Linked DNA regions of Homo sapiens. The protein of the gene in region 3 purifies or fractionates together with the protein of the main gene of each other region. This does not show direct contact. Each region holds a gene or a part of one and is shown on either strand. Other genes may lie near its edges. The genes, in order: CDKL1, KATNB1, KATNBL1, WDR62 and ATXN2L.

What was found.
Region 1: the proteins of KATNBL1 (region 3) and CDKL1 purify together in Homo sapiens (tandem affinity purification; one large-scale study listed by IntAct). This does not show direct contact.
Region 2: the proteins of KATNBL1 (region 3) and KATNB1 purify together in Homo sapiens (affinity purification with mass spectrometry; 4 studies listed by BioGRID and IntAct, with this or other methods). This does not show direct contact.
Region 4: the proteins of KATNBL1 (region 3) and WDR62 purify together in Homo sapiens (tandem affinity purification; one large-scale study listed by IntAct). This does not show direct contact.
Region 5: the proteins of KATNBL1 (region 3) and ATXN2L purify together in Homo sapiens (affinity purification with mass spectrometry; one large-scale study listed by BioGRID and IntAct). This does not show direct contact.

Annotation. Positions count from the first base shown.
Region 1 is NC_000014.9:50,386,516-50,390,423, forward strand, and holds part of CDKL1 (cyclin-dependent kinase-like 1), read right to left. Parts: intron 1-3,908.
Region 2 is NC_000016.10:57,738,770-57,742,677, reverse strand, and holds part of KATNB1 (katanin p80 WD40 repeat-containing subunit B1), read right to left. Parts: intron 992-3,908; coding exon 861-991; intron 1-860.
Region 3 is NC_000015.10:34,154,486-34,158,393, forward strand, and holds part of KATNBL1 (KATNB1-like protein 1), read right to left. Parts: intron 200-3,908; coding exon 159-199; intron 1-158.
Region 4 is NC_000019.10:36,102,753-36,106,016, reverse strand, and holds the end of WDR62 (WD repeat-containing protein 62), read right to left. Parts: coding exon 3,166-3,264; intron 3,070-3,165; coding exon 2,943-3,069; intron 2,862-2,942; coding exon 2,810-2,861; intron 2,675-2,809; coding exon 2,036-2,674; intron 1,500-2,035; coding exon 1,342-1,499; intron 1,250-1,341; coding exon 989-1,249; 3' UTR 909-988; downstream 1-908. UniProt on the Homo sapiens protein: Required for cerebral cortical development. Plays a role in neuronal proliferation and migration.
Region 5 is NC_000016.10:28,832,999-28,835,773, forward strand, and holds part of ATXN2L (ataxin-2-like protein), read left to right. Parts: intron 1-60; coding exon 61-356; intron 357-440; coding exon 441-510; intron 511-1,066; coding exon 1,067-1,213; intron 1,214-1,344; coding exon 1,345-1,417; intron 1,418-1,507; coding exon 1,508-1,695; intron 1,696-2,059; coding exon 2,060-2,189; intron 2,190-2,279; coding exon 2,280-2,401; intron 2,402-2,547; coding exon of another isoform or gene 2,548-2,550; coding exon 2,551-2,760; intron 2,761-2,775. UniProt on the Homo sapiens protein: Involved in the regulation of stress granule and P-body formation.

The DNA.
Region 1 (3,908 bases), on a different chromosome or scaffold from region 3:
TATTCATTGCAGTATTCTCTCCACTTCTGTATATTTTGATTTTTTTCTCAGAATAAAAGGTTGTAGGAAAAATCCCAGGACACTTTACATAAAATTCTGATTTCTGGCTTTTTAAAAAAGACTCTGGCTGGACATGTTGGGGGTCATGCCTGTAAACCCAGTACCTTGGGAGACCGAGGCAGGAGGATTGCTTGAGCACAGGAGTTTGAGACCAGCCTGGGCAACATGGAGAAACCCCATCTCTACAAAGAATACAAAGAATTGGCTGGGCGCAGTGGCTCATGTCTGTAATCCCAGCACTTTGGGAGGCCGAGGTCAGGAGTTTGAGACCAGCCTGGCCATCTCTACTAAAAACACAAAAACCAGCCAGGTGTGGTGGCATGCACCTATAATCCCAGCTGCTCAAGAGACTGAGGCAGGAGAATCACTTGAATCTGGGAGGTGGAGGTTGCAGTAAGCCAAGATCGCGCCACTGTATTCCAGCCTGGAAGACAGAGCGAGACTCCGTCTCAAAAAGAAAAAAAAAAAAAGAATACAAAGAATTAGCCTAGTGTGGTGATGCATGCCTGTAGTCCCAGCTATTCAGGAGGCTGAGGTGGGAGGATCACCTGAGCCCTGGAGATTGAGGCTGCGGTGAGCCATCATTGCCCCACTGCACTCCAGCCTGGGCAACAGACTGAGACCCTGTCTTAAAAAAAAAAAAAAAATGGGGGTGGGGGTGGTGGGCCTGATGCGGTGACTCATGCCTGTAATCCCAGCACTTTGGGAGGCCGAGGCAGGTGGATCACCTGAAGTCAGGAGTTCACAACCAGCCTGTCCAACATGGTGAAACCCCGTCTCTACTAAAAATACAAGAAATTAGTTAGGCATGGTAGTGGGCACCTGTAATCCCAGCTACTCAGGAGGCTGAGGCAGGAGAATCGCTTGAGCCTGGGAGGCAGAGGTTGCAGTGAGCCCAGATCATATCATTACACTCCAGCCTGGGTGACAAGACCAAGACTCCATCTCAAAAAAAAAAAAGACTGAAAACCCAGCACCTTAGGCTTGCAGTCTGTGGCACTGAGCAGTAGCTGTCCACTTTAGATCAGACATGAGGACCCCAGTTTGCCCCAGTCTCCACCTCTCCATCTTGCCCTATATTCAGACTGCTTCCCTCATTTATGTTAACAGTGTGATTCCACAGACATTTGGGTTTGTTAATCCATAATCCATAACAGAAAATGCTGAACTCAGCTAAAACAATTAATAGACATATGTTATTAATTCACCTCAACAAGCCAATTAAACAATTTGAAGAGAGGGAGCCTAGAATGACCCCTATTAGCAAAAGCAGGATGAAATTCTTAAAGATGTCACAGGATTTTCCACTGAGGTGTTTGTTTGTTTGTTTTGTTTTTTTGAGACAGAGTCTTGCCCTGTCGCCCAGGCTGGAGCACAATGGCTCTATCTCGACTCACCGCCACCTCCACCTCCCGGGTTCAAGCGATTCTCCTGCCTCAGCCTCCCAAGTAGCTGTGGTTACAGGTGCCCGCCACCACACCTGGCTAATTTTTTGTATCTTTAGTAGAGACGGGGATGTTGGCCAGGCTGGTCTCAAACTCCTGACCTCGTGATCCACCTGCCTCAGCCTTCCAAAGTGCTGGGATCACAGGCATGAGCCACTGCAGCTGGCTGAGGTTTTTACTGAGTGAGGAAACACTCCTTCAACTAATATTTGAAGAGCAGAAGCCCTTCCAACTATGAAAGTTCTAATTAGATTCTAATGCTAGGGAGCATTTACATGGTACTCTTAGCATTTAGTGGATGTGGCACTGCACAGAGCACATTCAGTTAAGCACTTAATAAATGCTTTGGATAACAGGCAACCTTGACAGTCCTACTTCTTAAAGCATGTGCCTGTCACCATGATGGTAATGTGCCCAGCAGGACTTCTGGTCTGCTCTTTGAAGACAGTGAGCCTCTTGGGGGACTGTGTGAAGAGCTTTTGCCTCCAGCGCCTCCGTTGGCCGTTGGCCACAGCACTATGTTAAAATCCCACCTTCTGCCCTTCTGTCTGTGCTTTCCTCTTCTATGTTTACTCCCTTTGACCCTCTACTTTCCTGCTCTTGCATCCTTGAGGCTGCTTGACCGCTGTTAGATGTTTGGCCCAAGAGCCCTCTGCCCTCCTCAGCAAAAAATCAGCAAAGCAATGCCAAACAGGGACATAAATCATAGCGATAAGGCACGCCAGGCTCCAGGAAGCACCAGAGCTTGCCCAAGGTCACTCCACAGCTTCAAGCATGATCAGAAACTGAAGTTCCATAGCTGGGTGTGGTGGCTCATGCCTGTAATCCCTGTACTTAGGGAGGCCGAGGGAGGCGGATCATGAGATCAGGAGTTTGAGACCAGCCCGGACAACACAGTGAAACCCTGTCTCTACTGAAAATACAAAAATTAGCTGGGTGTGGTGGCACGCCCCTGTAGTCCTATCTACTGGGGGAGGCTAAGGCAGGATAATCGCTTGAACCCAGGAGGCAGAGGTTGCAGTGAGCCGAGATTGCGCTATTGCACTCCAGCCTGGGCAGCAGAGTGAGACTGTCTTCAAAAAAAAAAAAAAAAAAAAAAAAAAGAGAGAGAAAAGAAAACTGAAGTCTCTAACTGTAGCTCCTGTCCCCATGCCCCTGTCCCTTCTATAAGGCTACTGATCAAAGGGGACAGCAGGGAAAAAAGGGATGCTCTGGACATTCTGCAGGTTACTATTCACGATGAATTAAAATCAAATGAGAGCCTACTTCTGGCACCTAGGATACACTCAACAGTGCCACTCGCCCACACCCCATGCACCTTTTTTCATTTCTCTCCCTCAAAGAGTCATTTTACACATTTTTTCTAATCACTTACCAATGAAATTTTAATATCACAAATATACTATATATCTGTATATGAACCATATGTATATCTGTGCTTTAAACAATAAAAAAGTTAGATTTTTTTGCCACCTGCCAAGAACCAATTTTCACCCTTTAGGAGTGACCTTGTTCTCATTATGAATCTCTGCATTACGTTGTGATATTTATAATTAATTTTCAAATGGACATTTCCCCTCACACTTATTCTCATCTTTGTAGGTGGCAAACCTACAAAGGTTTGTACAAAGGTTTAGAAGGCTATTTTAGCCTTCTAAAATAGTCCATAGGGTTATGGAATGAGATATGGAAAGAACGGCTGTTCAGCTACAATCTGCACTCAGGCCTCCACAGAAGCCACAAATCTCACAGCTAAGGCCCTGCGGGAGAACGGGCAGTATAAATTCTGACGACCAGTCATTGGGAGACTTCAGAGTATGGTGTTTGGTATAAAGTGATGGATGGTTCTGGTATGGGGAAACCACATGGCATGAACTTGGGGACAGACAGAACTGTGTCTGCATTCCAGCTTACTGACCGGGAGGCCTTGGCAAATCATTAACCATACTGAATCCATTTGTAAAATGGGATAACAATATCTACCTTCTAAGGTTGTTATTAGTGTAACGATATCTACCTTCTAAGGTTGTTATTAGTGTAATTTGTGCATCCTAAGTAACAATGATACTTGGCAGTTTGTCCAAATTTACTAGGTCCCTTGCCCCTACCTGCCACATAGCAGTAGATGATTCCTTCTCTTTGTCTCACTTGTTTTTCTTGTTTTCTGGAGGGAGACATGTCATAGACAATGTCCCAGCTGCTGCTTTCAGCCCTTGACCAATGCTGGTCTAATATATTTTAACGCCCCCATACCACCTGCCATAGGTAGAACGTCTGCCCAGGGATCCCACAGTGACACTGTCCTGTCCTTGACCTCCAACTCCGCTAGGAGCATCTACTTTTTCTGCCACTGCTGGCAGAAATTCTTTCTTTCCTCTTCTTACCATTTTCATTCCACAGAGA
Region 2 (3,908 bases), on a different chromosome or scaffold from region 3:
TGGAACACCATTAAGCCATTCAAAATTATGTTGTAAAAGAATACTTGTTGACACAGGCAAATCCTTACAACATTGTTATTTTTAAAAACCAGGCTGCACAAGAGTGGCAGTGTATTTTTATTTATGTGTGTGTGCTTGTATGAGTATTTGTGTGTATACATGTGTACATGCATGTACAAGTGTGCACTTACGTGCATGTACACGTATATGTATCTGTCTCAGCATCTAGAAGGACTCACACCAAAACACCAACTGTGGTGGCCTTTGGATAACGGAACTATATGTAGTTAATTTTGTGTTTTCTCCTTTATGCACTCCTATTTGGAAAACAGTTTCCAGCATTGAACATATAGCTGCATAAATAGTGGGGAGATGCTATTTAAGAACTAGCTCCCTAACCAGCTCCAGCCAGGTCCCCTCAAATCCTCATTGGGGAATGAAGGCTGGGAATGAATTAAAATAAACGCCCACATGTTGCTGCCAGGCAGGCAGATGGGCAGGTGGGAGGGGAGGGGTACAAGTCTTTTGGCTCAACCACAGGCCCAGGGCTTATTTTAATCTTCTCACGCAGCCTGCCTGGAGTTCTTAATAGTACCACAGGCAGGTGACTCCCTCGCTCCTGAGGGCTGGCCACTGTCCCAGCCATGCTGGGCTGTCCTGGGCCTCACTGAGCAGACAGCTGGGGGAAGCACTGATGGTGTCCCCACCACGCCCCCTCCACCCCTGAGCTGGGCCCCAGCGGATAGGGGGCCCTGGGCTCAAGAGAGTCTGAGAAGCTGCTCACTCTTCAGCCTCCAACCCCTGTCCCCGTCCCCTCCCCAGGCCCTTGTCCTGACCCCCCGCCAGCTGTCGGGGCTCACCATGATGCAGTTGGGCTTGTTGATGGACCACAGGTTGACGCGGCAGTCATCCCCGCCTGTAGCCAGCAGCCGCCCGGAGGCTTTGCCCAGCACCAGTGAGGACACGTTGCTGGCATGCGCGACGATCTCTTCTACACAGGGAAGGAGAGGGAGAGGCCATCAGGGCGGCCCGATGGGGCCTTGTGAAGGAGGGGTGACCCTGCTCGGCTACCCGCTTTGGAACCTGAAGCCCAGTGGAAGGATCTGCCTCCTTCAGCTCCCCCTTTGGTGTCCACCATGAGCTGCAGGACCAGCAGACAGGGCAGGGCATGGGCCTGAGACGGAAATCACTGTTTCTCAACTTTCATCATGCCTGTCTTTCCTACCTTTAGACTTCACGATTTTCTTCCTGTTTCTGCATATCACCTGGTAATATTGACTAGTTATACGCAATTTTTAAAATTGACTTGCTATTTTTATTAGCTTGGGCTTAAGCAATGTCCATGAAATTACAAGTTTGATATACTCATGATACTCTTTCTATGATACAAAAAGAAAAACAATTATTGAAATAAAAAAAATTGACCCATGCACTGCCTACACACCTCTCAGCTGCTGCTTGTGTGTACATACAAACCCTGCTTTGGAGAACACACTTTAAGAACAACCGAAGTCACCTCTAGACAAGCTGCCCCCAGGTAAGCCTGCACAGGGCTTCGGCTCAGATTCACAATCACGGATCAGGTTCTGGTCTGAGGTCTGTGATCTGCTATTGCGTGGCCTTGGCTACTAGGTCACTTGTCCTCTGAGGGCCTGGCTCCTCGTCTGGAAAGTGGGGATGCCCGTGGTGTCTGCTCACACCTGATGCTGAGGACTCCCTCAGAGCGCGCCTACGTGCTGCTTAGTAGCAGGCGAGGGCTCCGTGACATTGGGCAGGCTCGGGGCTAGTCACCATGAGAGAGTGGGCATGGGGGCCTGGGCGGGCACCAGAGGGTGGGCTTCATGAGGAGGGGGCAGGAGGCAACAGACTGAGCAGCTGGGGTGGGGGTGAGGGCTGACCACACAGAGGAGGAGCCTGTGCAGACAGCCCAAGGCCCTGGCCTGGTCCGTGGAGATGGCAGACAGGAGCCTCGGAGGACTCCGCAGGGAGCAAAGCACAGGCAGGGAACCAAGAGGCGGCCCGGGCCTCAGAACCCATCCCTGCATGAGCTCCTCCTGGAAAGAAGGGAGAAAAAAGACAGTTCTCCCCACACAGGCCAGGGGAAAACCCCAAGGTGCTGACGCCCCGAGGCACCCGGAAGGCCAGCGTGGGTGACGCCAAGGAAAAGGGTGTTGGAGCCACGGCGCTCCACAGAGGCCCCTCCTGCACCCCAGCTCCGACTCCACCCTGCCTGGGTGTCTCTGCTGCGGGCTTCAGACCACAAGGAGGTTGGGAAACTGGGCCCAGGGAAGCTGCTTGCCAGAAACCTGGGCTCCAAGGGGCCACCAGGAATACCCAGGGGACAAGTCGCAGGCTGAATCTCACTGATGACACCCTGCCTCCTGGGCCGGTCGGGGCAGAGCCAGCACAGGCAGCAGCGCCAGCAAGGGCGAGGGTTCCCTGTGGGCCCAAACCTGGGCCAGGGCGCTGGGAGTTCGCCATGGGGATCCCAGGGAGCTGGGCCCCACTTTAGTCCCGTCTCGATGAGAGCCTTCTGTCCTCTGGACACTGTCGGGACAGAAACCTGAGGAATTCCAGCCACAGACGTGTCTGTTCAAGGTTTCCACCTGACCCAGAAAGAGGGCAAAGCACCTTCTCCCTGGCATTCCGTGCCCGAGCCTGGTGTCCTCTCCGTGGAGGCACTGCTCGCTCCCCCTGGCCTACCTGGAGGGCTCTGTCTGTCCCCTGGCCCTCACTCCTCCCAGGGAAAGTGTCTGGCTGGGCCCCACCTCACTGGGCCTCAGGACTGCTGCCCCTGGAGTCAGGGGCATTCATTCATAATATCAGTATTTCCTGGGTGCCTGTTCTAGGCCTTGCACGAAATATGCCCCAGTATAATCAGATGGTGGTGGGGGCGGGACACTGAGCTGGCAAAACCGCAGACTTTGGAGTGAGAAAGATTTAGAAGTTGGGCCCTTCTGGAGGAGCCCACATCACTCCCCTCTAAGCAGCCTGACCAGGGACTGACTGGAGCCCACAGAGGGAGGGCAGAGGGGCAGGGACACAGCACAGGCACCTGCAAAGGAGGCACGGGGCACCACCCCAAGAGCTCCTCCTTCATCCTGGCTTGTTGGACAGCAACCAACAGCCCAGGCCGAATACTTGATTTTCATACCAAAAATAAAAAATAAAAATCCTCAGTGTCTACTGGCAGGCCAAGCTCTGGGAGTACAACCTGGGCCCCACATCCAGCCAAAGCTGGGGAACATGGTGCGGCGTGGCCAGAGGGGCTGAGGATCAGCATCCCAAATGCAAGATACAAAGTACTAGGTTTCAACGACCTCATGTGGGCCACGCACCTCTGATCCTCACCAGACCCTGGAGCCACAAGGAGCCAGAGGTCACGTGGCCCTGGGCTCTTCAGAGTTGATTCCCACGGACACCACCGTGCACATGAAATCAGCAGCAGCAGCAGATGCCCAATACGCCTGATCTCATTACCTCCTGCTCGCACACACTGATGGCTTGGCCTTGCCTTTATGATAAAGCACGGCAGCCTCAGGAGGGCTGGGGTCCTGAGAACTCAGTAGGTCCGTGCGGCCCCACATTCCTCCTGCTGCTGTGCCACTGCCCATGGCCTCCCTTGAGTCCTTCCAATACACTGAGCCTCCTGCCTCAGGGCCTTTGCACTTGCTGTTCATGCAGCCTGCAGCATTCCCACCCCACCCCTACCCCTACCCCCCAGCTAACTGATTCAAAGCACAGGCACCAGCTTGCAACTAGAGGAGACACAGAGGGATACGGTTATCCAGTTCCTGCCTGTTGCTCTCCCCAGGCTCTGAGCTCCCGCTGTACAGAGACCTTGACTACTTTGTCCCCCAGTGGCTCCCCAGTGCCTAGCTCTGGGGAAAGGCCAGCTGTCGAAGGGA
Region 3 (3,908 bases):
ATATTGATGTGTTTATTAGTGCAGATACTGGCATAAAGAAGCTGTTTGACAATAAGTTAATTATTATTATGATAAAAGAATGCTTATTTTTCCCTTATTGTCATCCTTACCCAGCTTTCATATTTGTTGTTCCCCACAAACTTTAAAGAAACTCTTACCTATTTATGTAAGCAGCCAACTGTTTTGGAGATTTCTTAACCTGAAAAATGAAAGTAGATAGTTGATGTTAGAAACAAATGCTTGGTGCCGCAAAGAAGAATCAGCACTCCGGCAAAAAGCTTTCTCAGCAAGGCAATTTACTTCTGCAGAAGGGTGCCAATCGTGCCTGGAGTGGTCGCAAGAGCATACCGGGCATGGGAGGAGAAGGGGTTCTTATCCCTAATGCAGCTAGTCCCTACTACTGTGTCATTCCCCTATTGGCTAGGGTTGGACCGCACAGTCTAAACTAATTCTGATAGGCTATCTGGGTATGAGGCAGAGTGGCGGGGTGAGCAGTTTAGGCAGGAAGGATGGTTACAGTGCAGGTGACTAAGGATGACTAAGGACAGAGCAGGTGACTAAGGATGACTAAGGACTCTAAATATGTGAGTATAAAGGCTAGAAGGGGGTTGTTTACTGAAACTAGGGCAAGGAGGTGTAAAGAATGAGGAAGTTAAACTTTAAAATGGAGAACAAAGTATAAGAAAGCTGAACATACTGACATACTGGTTCCCAGAGGAACTCAGAACTCACTGTACTTAACAATATCCCCCTTTTGAATTTTACAGGTCTTCCTCTTCAAATTTCTTTAACATGTCTTGGCATAGCTGTTCTGCTTGGTTTTCTAAAAGAAAGAGCTTGTCAGAATATGGTGGAGGGGAACTGAGAGAAGTTTTAGTAAGGGCTGTTTCTGTATGTCTTTGGACTAGCCCACGGATGCGAGGTATGATGCAGCATCCAACAAGGATAAGCACTACTGCTACAATTGCAAGAGAAGTAAGGATGGTGGCTGTGATCCCTTTCCATTTACCAAACCATTTTTCTAGCCACCCTGTGAAGGGGTCATTTACTCCTGAGTTTTTTGCTAACTCATTGGACAGAGCAGTTAGACCTTGCAATGCCTTTGTTATACTTTCATCAGGGGCGGTATTGTTTGGGATGAAGGTACAACACTGAGTTTTAATCATGATGCAAACTTCCCCTTTTTCTGCTAAAATCATGTCTAAGGCCATTCTATTTTCCCAAGCCATCTGGCTAGTAAGCCCTAATTGCTCAGCTATTCCTTTAACAGCATCTCTAGTATAGTTAATAAACCGCTGTTGGTTGTAATAGGTGGAATTTATCTAATCTACGTTTTTATTAATTGTCACCCACCAAAATATTGACTCAAATCCAGCAGCTATTTGATCTCAGGTCTTAAATTTATTTGGTACTCCTCGTGGGACTCTAATTGCATCTAAATAAATGTGGGAGTCGAAAGACCCATAAGGGGCTTCCCTTGCTTTATGACATTGTGTTTTTTTCTTTCTCTGGTTGATGAAATGCCAGGGTGAAAGGGATAGCCAACTGCACTAGGGCGCAAGTGACACTCCAGTTACTAGGCAGAGTGTCCAGCAAAGGTCTACCACAATATCACCATACATCTGCTCGGGGGTGTATAAGGGCTGACTGGTTGGTGAGCTCTTGGAAAGTCTTAAGCTCACCGCATCCTTTTAGGTCTCTAAGGGATGCTAAGTTTCCTCTTTGTCGTGAGAGACACAAAATGAACTCAGTGTCGGGAGACAGAAGCTGGATGGCCCTCGGGGGCTAACCTGTGGGGTCTTGAACTTCGGGATATAGCAGAGAAAGAGCTTGGCACGACTTGTTACCCCAGGCTGTGGAATCCTGGAAAAAGAGCTACCATACAGCCCATGCCTGGTTGACTGGAGGACCATCATAGTGGAAAGGGGACAATCTGGCCCTCTGGCCTGCCATGCGCACGAGCATAACAATTGCTTTTGTTTAAAGTGCGGATGAAATATTTTATCTATTCTAACCAGGCATTGGCATTTTGATATCCCGTCTCAATTGCTAAAGTTTCTTTTAGGACTTTGACTTCTACAATAGCTACCTTCGTCTTGTCATTAGATGGAGGAAGAACAACAGTTTTGTTGTGGGAGGTTCTGGAAGAAGGCTTAGGGGAAGGTGTAGGCGGTGGGGGAGCAATGAAGAATATTTCAAAGGATCTGATAGGGTCTGCTCCTGAAACCTCAGCCCCCATATTATAAAACTGGCTTAAAGAAGGAAATTGGCTTAGAGAAGGGGAAGAACTTAGAGGGTTTGAGATAATAGCCTGTACTGGATTGTACTGATTTAGCTGACAGTTAGGGGAAGCTGTTCCTTTAGTAAAATGAATGTATAGCTTTAGGAAATTACAACTACTGCTTGGGGCAATCTATTCTTGCTCTTTAGTGGTCCACAGAATGTTGGACCAACTACAGCATAAAAGCTTTGTATTGGGAAGGCAAGACTCTCAGTTTATACTGGAATCTCCGTCAAACTCTTCCCAAGCTAACTTATCCCAGTTAACAGAATTCCAGTCTGAGAAGAGCTAGGAAGGACAAAGATACTTTTCTGAAGTGGAGAGTTGCCTCTGGCTTGGCACATCTCCACAGGGCATCACAAGGCAAGCATCAAAGGTAATAGTTTGGGGTGAACTCGACCTAGTTACATTAATAACAAGAGGACTAGCAATAGATGGGGAAAAGAAGAGATGCAACATAAGAGGATCAAACCCGTTTTAGCTTTAGCTTGGTTAGAGTAAGCCCTAGAATAGCTGCCCATGATTCTGGAGGAGGTGGTGCTCTTTTGACCTGGGTGTGATGAGTCCATCCCATTTCTGCTGTTTGAACTGTGGTCTCAATGGTTAGAAGCACTAGGCAGGGTCCTTCCTAAGCTGGTTCAAGTTTTCCTTCCCTCCAACTTTTGACAAGGATGTGGTCCCTAGGCTGATGTTGGTGTACTGGAAACTCTAGGGGTGGTGCCTGTGCTAAAAGACCTTTAGTTCTGAGGCAAGAGAAAGTGGAAGATAAACTTAAGTATATAATTTCTGAGAAACTGATCTTTTGTTTCGAACATGGGAATGTCAGCAGCGGAGTGCAAATAGAGCAACTTACACAACATTTCATAAGGGGATAAGCCAACATCTCTCTGAGGAGCAGTTCGGATTCTCAACAGGGCAATGGGAAGGCATCTAGTCCATGGCAACCGAGTCTCTAAGACTAATTTGCTTAAGTGGCTTTTTAGAGTTTGGTTCATTTTTTTCCCCACTCTTCCTGATGAAGGTGGGTGCCAGGGAGTATGATTTCCCATGTTATATCCAGTACCTGGGCTAATTTCTTAATGACATGTGCAATGAAATGAGTTCCATTATCTGAATCAATGTTTCCTATTAATCCAAACCTGGGTATAATATTTTCAACTAATGTTTTGACTACATTATTAGCAGTTGCACTTGAAAGGAAATAGCTTCTACCCAATGAGTAAGGTGATCTACTATTACTAATAAATATTTTAGACAACCAATTTGGGGCATCTTGGCGTAATCAACTTGGATACTTTGGAACAGTCTTAATTCCAGATACCTTCCCCTAAGAGGTGGTTTTCTGAGGGTCTGCTTATTAGTCATCCTAAATACTAGGCAACTATCTGTAACCTGTCATGTCAAAGTGTAAATTGCTACACATCCATAAACCCAAAGGACTGCATCACACATAGCTTGAGGTCCCCAATGAGTCTCTTGATGCAGATGAGAGAGGTCTCTCATAAGGGAATTGGATAACATTTTTCTTTGGTCTGGTAACACCCATTTCTCTTCTGAATTTTCTTTGGCCCCTATTTTTATTAATTTCTCTTTTTCAGTGGGAAAGAAGATGGGAACTGCAGTTGGG
Region 4 (3,264 bases), on a different chromosome or scaffold from region 3:
TTAAAGAGACGGGGTTTTGGCCAGGTGCGGTGGCTCATGCCTGTAATCCCAGCACTTTGGGAGGCCGAGGTGGGCGGATCTCCCAAGGTCAGGAGTTTGAGACCAGCCTGGCCAACATGGCAAAACCCCGTCTCTACTAAAAATACAAAAATCAGCTGAGTATGGTGGTGGGTGCCTGTAATCCCAGCTACTCGGGAGGCTGAGGCAGGAGAATCGCTTGAACCCGGGAGGCGGAGGTTGCAGTGAGCCAAGATCGCACCACTGCACTCTAGCCTGGATGACACAGCAAGATTCCATCTCAAAAACAAAAATAAATAAATAAATACATGAAATAAAGAGATGGGGTTTCACCAAGTTGCCCAGGCTGGTCTCAAACTCCTGGCCTCAAGCGATCCTCCCACCTCAGCCTCCTGAGTAGCCGGGATTATAGGTGCAGGCCACCATACCCAGCTTGGGCAAGCCTGTTCATGGGTCCTCAGTTTCCCCTGTTGCAGATGGGGACACCACCACCGTGGACTTTGTGGGATCTAGTGTGGCCTTGGCCCAGAGGCCCTGAGCCATGATATGGCAAAGCGTGGACTGCTGGGCAAGGTAGGCACATGGTGATCACAGCAGCCCCAGTGAGTTCTCAGGCACTGGCAGGGGGCAGGTAAGAGGGTCTGGCTCCTCCCTGGGGCACAAATGGGCCCCACTGGGTAAGCACCTCACACTGGTCTGTGGCAGCTCTGTGGGCAGTGTGGGAGGACTGGCCCTGAGGTCATGGCTGCAGTTCCTGAACTTCTTGGGAGCGCTGGTCCCATGCTCTCCACTGACAGACACGAGTCCTCTGGGCATCACCTTCTACCCTCCCTCCCCACTTCCACTTGAAGAGGGCTTTGTGGATAGGCCCAAACAGACACCAGGAACCATTCCTCAAAGCTGTCAGTTTATTCGCTTAAAATACCTAAGTCCTCAGAAGCAGCAGGGCTGCGGTGGAGGGGCTGCGCCCTCAGTGCCCCCGTGCCTTCCTCCGCACGGCCTGCACCAGCAGCTCCGAGTAGTGTTCCAGCAGGGCCTGCAGGTCTGGGCTGGCCAGGGGGTACAGCGTCGGTGGGGACGGGGGTCCTGGGCTGGGCAGAGCCTGGGCTGGGGCCACACTAGTCCCCACCAGGCATTCAGCCTCCAGCTGGCTGTGGATCCACAGGAAGGTGGAGACCAGCTCAGTCCGTGCCTGCTGCTGCCCGGTGTCCACCTGGCCACTGGAGACCAACTGCAAGGGATGCCAGCCTTGTCAGGGGCCACCAAGGCCGGGCGGTCTCAAGAGACCCCTCAACCCTTTCCCAACTCTGGGGCTTAGCTCACCACACGGTAAAGGTCGAGGGCTTCTTGGAAGGTGGTCTGCAGCCTGTGCAAGATGTTCCCCACCCTGCTCAGCTCAAGGGGAGATGGGGGCAGGGCTTCAACCGGCACCCAGGGCTCACTCCAGCGGGCAGGGCTGCCCTGTAACAGACCAAGTGCACCTGGGGTAGAGAGAAGGGAATGAGCAAGATGAGCTGCATTCCATTGGTGTGAGCGGCCAGAGCGACTGGGTGGACTCCATGCTGTACTTCTGTCTGGAACACTTCTCTGGGTCCCCAAGGCTCCCTCCCCTTCACTCCTACAGGTCTCTGCTCCAATGCAGCCTCCTCCCTGAAGCCTCTTCTTATCTTCTGGTTTGTAATCCCAACCCCTGTCCCCACCCTGCACTCCCTCGCCCTCCTCTGTCCCTCCTAAGCATGTGTCACTTCGTGATACATATGACGGGTTCCTTAAAGGTTTAGTCTGGGCATTGTCCCCATTGAAGCTGTCAGTTCTCTGTGTTGTTTACCACCATGTCCCATGTCCCAGGGTTTAGCACAAAGCCCAACATGTAATGCTCATTAAATATTTAAGTTAATGCACGAATGAATGAATGGCACAGTCCCTGTGGCCAGGTCAAGTATCCATCTTTGGAGCTGAGCCAACTAGCACACAGGATGAGCTTAGGGGACAGTCCTTGCTCCAGGGCTGTACTCACCGGAGGTGGGCTCCAGGAGGGAGGCAGTGCCGCCAGGGATGCCAGGCCGGGCCTCTGGAAGCTGGGGGTTACTGGGGTGGGCAGGAAGGCCAGGGGACTCAGGAGCTGGGAGACTTGGGCGAAAGGCAGAGCCGTGGAGCCTCAGGGCGCTCTCTTCCACAGGGCTAGGGGCTGGGAAGCTCACTGCAGGGACGGTGACGCCAGGCTGGGTATCCACGGGGGGCTGCAGGAGCCCATCACAGGCACTTGACAGGGTCAGTCTCAGGTTGGCCCGGGCCTCGTGGTTGCCCCAGGAACGCAGGGCAGGCTCTTGGCCCTCACTGTCCAAACTGGGTGTTGTCGCGGTGGTGATGGCCTGAAGCTCCTGGCCCAAGGAGGCCAGCTCCCCAACGGACGATGGCCTACGGAGGGGCTGGGCCAGTGTGGCCACGATAGGGCCCTCACTGTCACCGAGGGAGATGCTGCGTGATATCCTGGCACGGGAGCTGGCAGTGGCCTCCATGTAGGAACAGGTGGAGGGGGCATGGACACCCTGAGCCAGGCCTGGGGTGGGTGCAGATGTGGGCGTTGGGAGATTCCTGTCTGTGGGCAGCACGGAGGAAGCAGGGACACAGGACGCCAGGCTCGTAAGGCAGGGAGCTGTAACGGAAGCAGATGGCACTGACTCCACCACACAGAACTGATGGCTAGGGCCCCCACGCCCCACAGCTAGGCTGGACATCCGGCCACTCGCCGAGAAACCCAGGACTGTCCGTCTGGGACTGGGGCACTCACGTGGTGGGCGCCAGGCCTCCAGGGTCTCTTCAGCCTTCCCTGCAGCGAGGACCTGCAGGCACAGCTCTGAGGTGAGGACAAGGCCTCAGGGTTCCCAGCCCCGTGCCCTGACGGAGGTGGGCCCAATACTCACGTGGGTCCTGTCTGGGGAGGCGTAGCCAGTACCTGCTCTGGGCTGGCTTCCGCCTCGGTCCATGAGCTTGACCTCTGGAGACTTCACAAGGCACTGGGTTGCCCGGGGAGGGAAGGTATGGGTGAACCTGTGGGGAGGAGAGCAGGGGGGATGATTCTCATTCAGCCTGCCCTGGGGCACTGTTGAGGAGCCAGAGGGTGGGCAGTGCTTGGCCAGCTTCTACCTGGATGCCTTCTGGAGGCTTGAGAGGAACTGCGTGGAGATACTCAGGCGTGGGTTGAAGAAGTGGTCTTCAGCTTCAGAGGCCTCCACGTCTCCCAGA
Region 5 (2,775 bases), on a different chromosome or scaffold from region 3:
AGAAGAAAGCCAGGACTAGGGTCTGGGTCAGACTGGACTGTGTGTGTTTCTCTCTTCCAGCTTCAGCCCAGTAGCTCCCCTGAGAACAGCCTGGATCCTTTTCCTCCCCGGATCTTAAAGGAGGAGCCCAAAGGAAAGGAGAAAGAGGTTGATGGTCTGTTGACTTCAGAGCCCATGGGGTCTCCCGTCTCCTCCAAGACAGAGTCCGTATCGGATAAGGAGGACAAACCACCCCTGGCACCATCAGGAGGCACTGAGGGGCCAGAGCAGCCCCCACCACCTTGTCCAAGCCAAACTGGCAGCCCCCCGGTGGGCCTCATCAAGGGAGAAGACAAAGATGAGGGCCCTGTTGCTGAGTGAGTGGAGCGGGGTGGGGCTCTGGGAGGATGGCAGGAGGGATGAGAGCAAGCCGTGAAGATTTACTGTACTTTCTCTCACAGACAAGTAAAGAAATCAACGTTGAACCCTAATGCTAAGGAGTTCAATCCTACAAAGCCTCTGCTGTCTGTGGTGAGCTGGGACAGGAGAATGTGGACTTTGGTTTCTGTGGGGAGACTTGGGCAGTGCTTATAGATGAATAGGGGGAGGAACACTTCACTTCCAGGACCACTTGCCTGGCAGGCAGTGTGAGGAGATGTCATAAAAATGTAAGGATGGCACCTTTGGGGCTGGCTTGGGGAAAATGGACTCAGGTCTCTAGGTTTGGGTGATCAGGGGATCAGGGATCCCAGTGAGTCTGATGAGGGGTTAACAGGCTTTTCTTTGGTTCTTGGCATTTGGCTGAGGGAGTATTGGAGTGGGGTAGTCATGAACAGAGGCCAGCTGACTTGGCTTGAGCCCCTGTATTTGGAAGGTTTGTGATCTTGGACGTCACTTACATTCTCTGCCTCACCTGTAACTTTAGAATACTCATCTCCTCATAGGGTTTAATGTGAGGCTTTATCAAGATAAGTGCAGAATATGTTTGGTATGCAGCATTTCACGAATGTTAATTATTACCACTCTAGGCATGGCCAGGAGTAGAGGGGAAAATACAAAATAAAATTGTCCTCCCTTGTTTTTGCAGAATAAATCCACCAGTACCCCAACTTCTCCGGGGCCCCGGACTCATTCAACTCCCTCCATCCCGGTGCTGACAGCAGGCCAGAGTGGGCTATACAGCCCCCAGTACATCTCCTACATACCTCAGATCCACATGGGACCAGCTGTGCAGGTATGCAGAGAGACTGGCCGGGCCCAGGGTTAGCGGGGTGGGATTTGGTTGCGCTGGTTGAGGGACCAGGTCAGGCCTGTCTGGGCATTCGTGAGCGAGTCATTCAGCCTCATCTGTGTCCTCATCCCCAGGCACCTCAGATGTATCCATATCCTGTATCCAATTCAGTGCCTGGGCAGCAGGGCAAGTACCGGGGAGCAAAAGGTGAGCAGGGCTGGGAGGGGCAGGCGGCGAGGCTGCCAAGGGCCTACTGGCAGGTGGAGCTTGAGCTCTCCTCTCCTCCTCCTCTTCCAGGCTCCCTTCCTCCGCAGCGCTCGGACCAACACCAGCCAGCCTCAGCCCCGCCGATGATGCAGGCCGCCGCGGCTGCTGGCCCGCCTCTGGTGGCTGCCACGCCCTATTCTTCCTACATCCCCTACAACCCTCAGCAGTTCCCAGGCCAGCCAGCCATGATGCAGCCCATGGCCCACTACCCCTCACAGGTGACTGCGGCCCAGGAGGGCAGTGAGGATCCAGGGCCCCTGCTAGGGATCCCATCTTCTCCAGAGACTTGGGAGCTGGCTAGGGGTGGCAGGCAGTGTTGTAGGTGGGATCGGCCCTCTGTGGTATTGGCGGTGTCAGACTTGGGCTTGAGCCCTGGCTCTGGTGGTACCTGTAACAAGGCATTGGACATCTGTATCTCTGAAGTGTAGAGAAAATAGTGTCTGCTGGGTGGGATCGTTATGAATGTTGAATCAATAGGGTGATTGTGAGGAGGCCCAAGCGGTGCTGTGCACGCAGTGACTGGCAGGAGGACACCTTCCCAGCTGGCGGCTGTGCCAACCACTCCTCTCTCTGTCCCGCCAGCCGGTGTTTGCCCCCATGCTTCAGAGCAACCCACGCATGCTGACGTCGGGCAGCCATCCCCAGGCCATCGTGTCATCCTCTACCCCTCAGTACCCTTCTGCAGAGCAGCCTACCCCCCAAGCCCTTTATGGTGAGTCCTGCGCCTGGTCCCTCTGCTCTGGGCTGTGTGCCAGCCCCCTCTGGTGTGCTCAGCACTGGTTCTCCCTCTTTCCTGCTGCAGCCACTGTTCACCAGTCCTACCCACACCATGCCACACAGCTCCATGCCCACCAGCCGCAGCCGGCTACCACGCCTACTGGAAGCCAGCCGCAGTCCCAGCATGCGGCCCCCAGTCCTGTCCAGGTGCCTGCCATGGGGGGTGCTGAGTGGTCCTGGTGCAGGAATGGGTGGCCAGAAGAAGGGATAGAGCTAGGGGTCATTTCTGAGTGGCGAGGACTGGGGGCCAGCGAGTTGCTGGCCTGTGTGGCACTCAACCTTCCCCTCCCCAGCAGCATCAGGCGGGGCAGGCCCCACACTTGGGCAGTGGACAGCCACAGCAGAATCTGTACCACCCAGGGGCCCTGACAGGCACGCCGCCCTCTCTGCCACCGGGACCTTCTGCCCAGTCCCCTCAGAGCAGCTTCCCCCAGCCAGCCGCTGTGTATGCCATCCACCACCAGCAGCTGCCCCACGGCTTCACCAACATGGCCCATGTTACCCAGGTAAGAGCCCAGCTG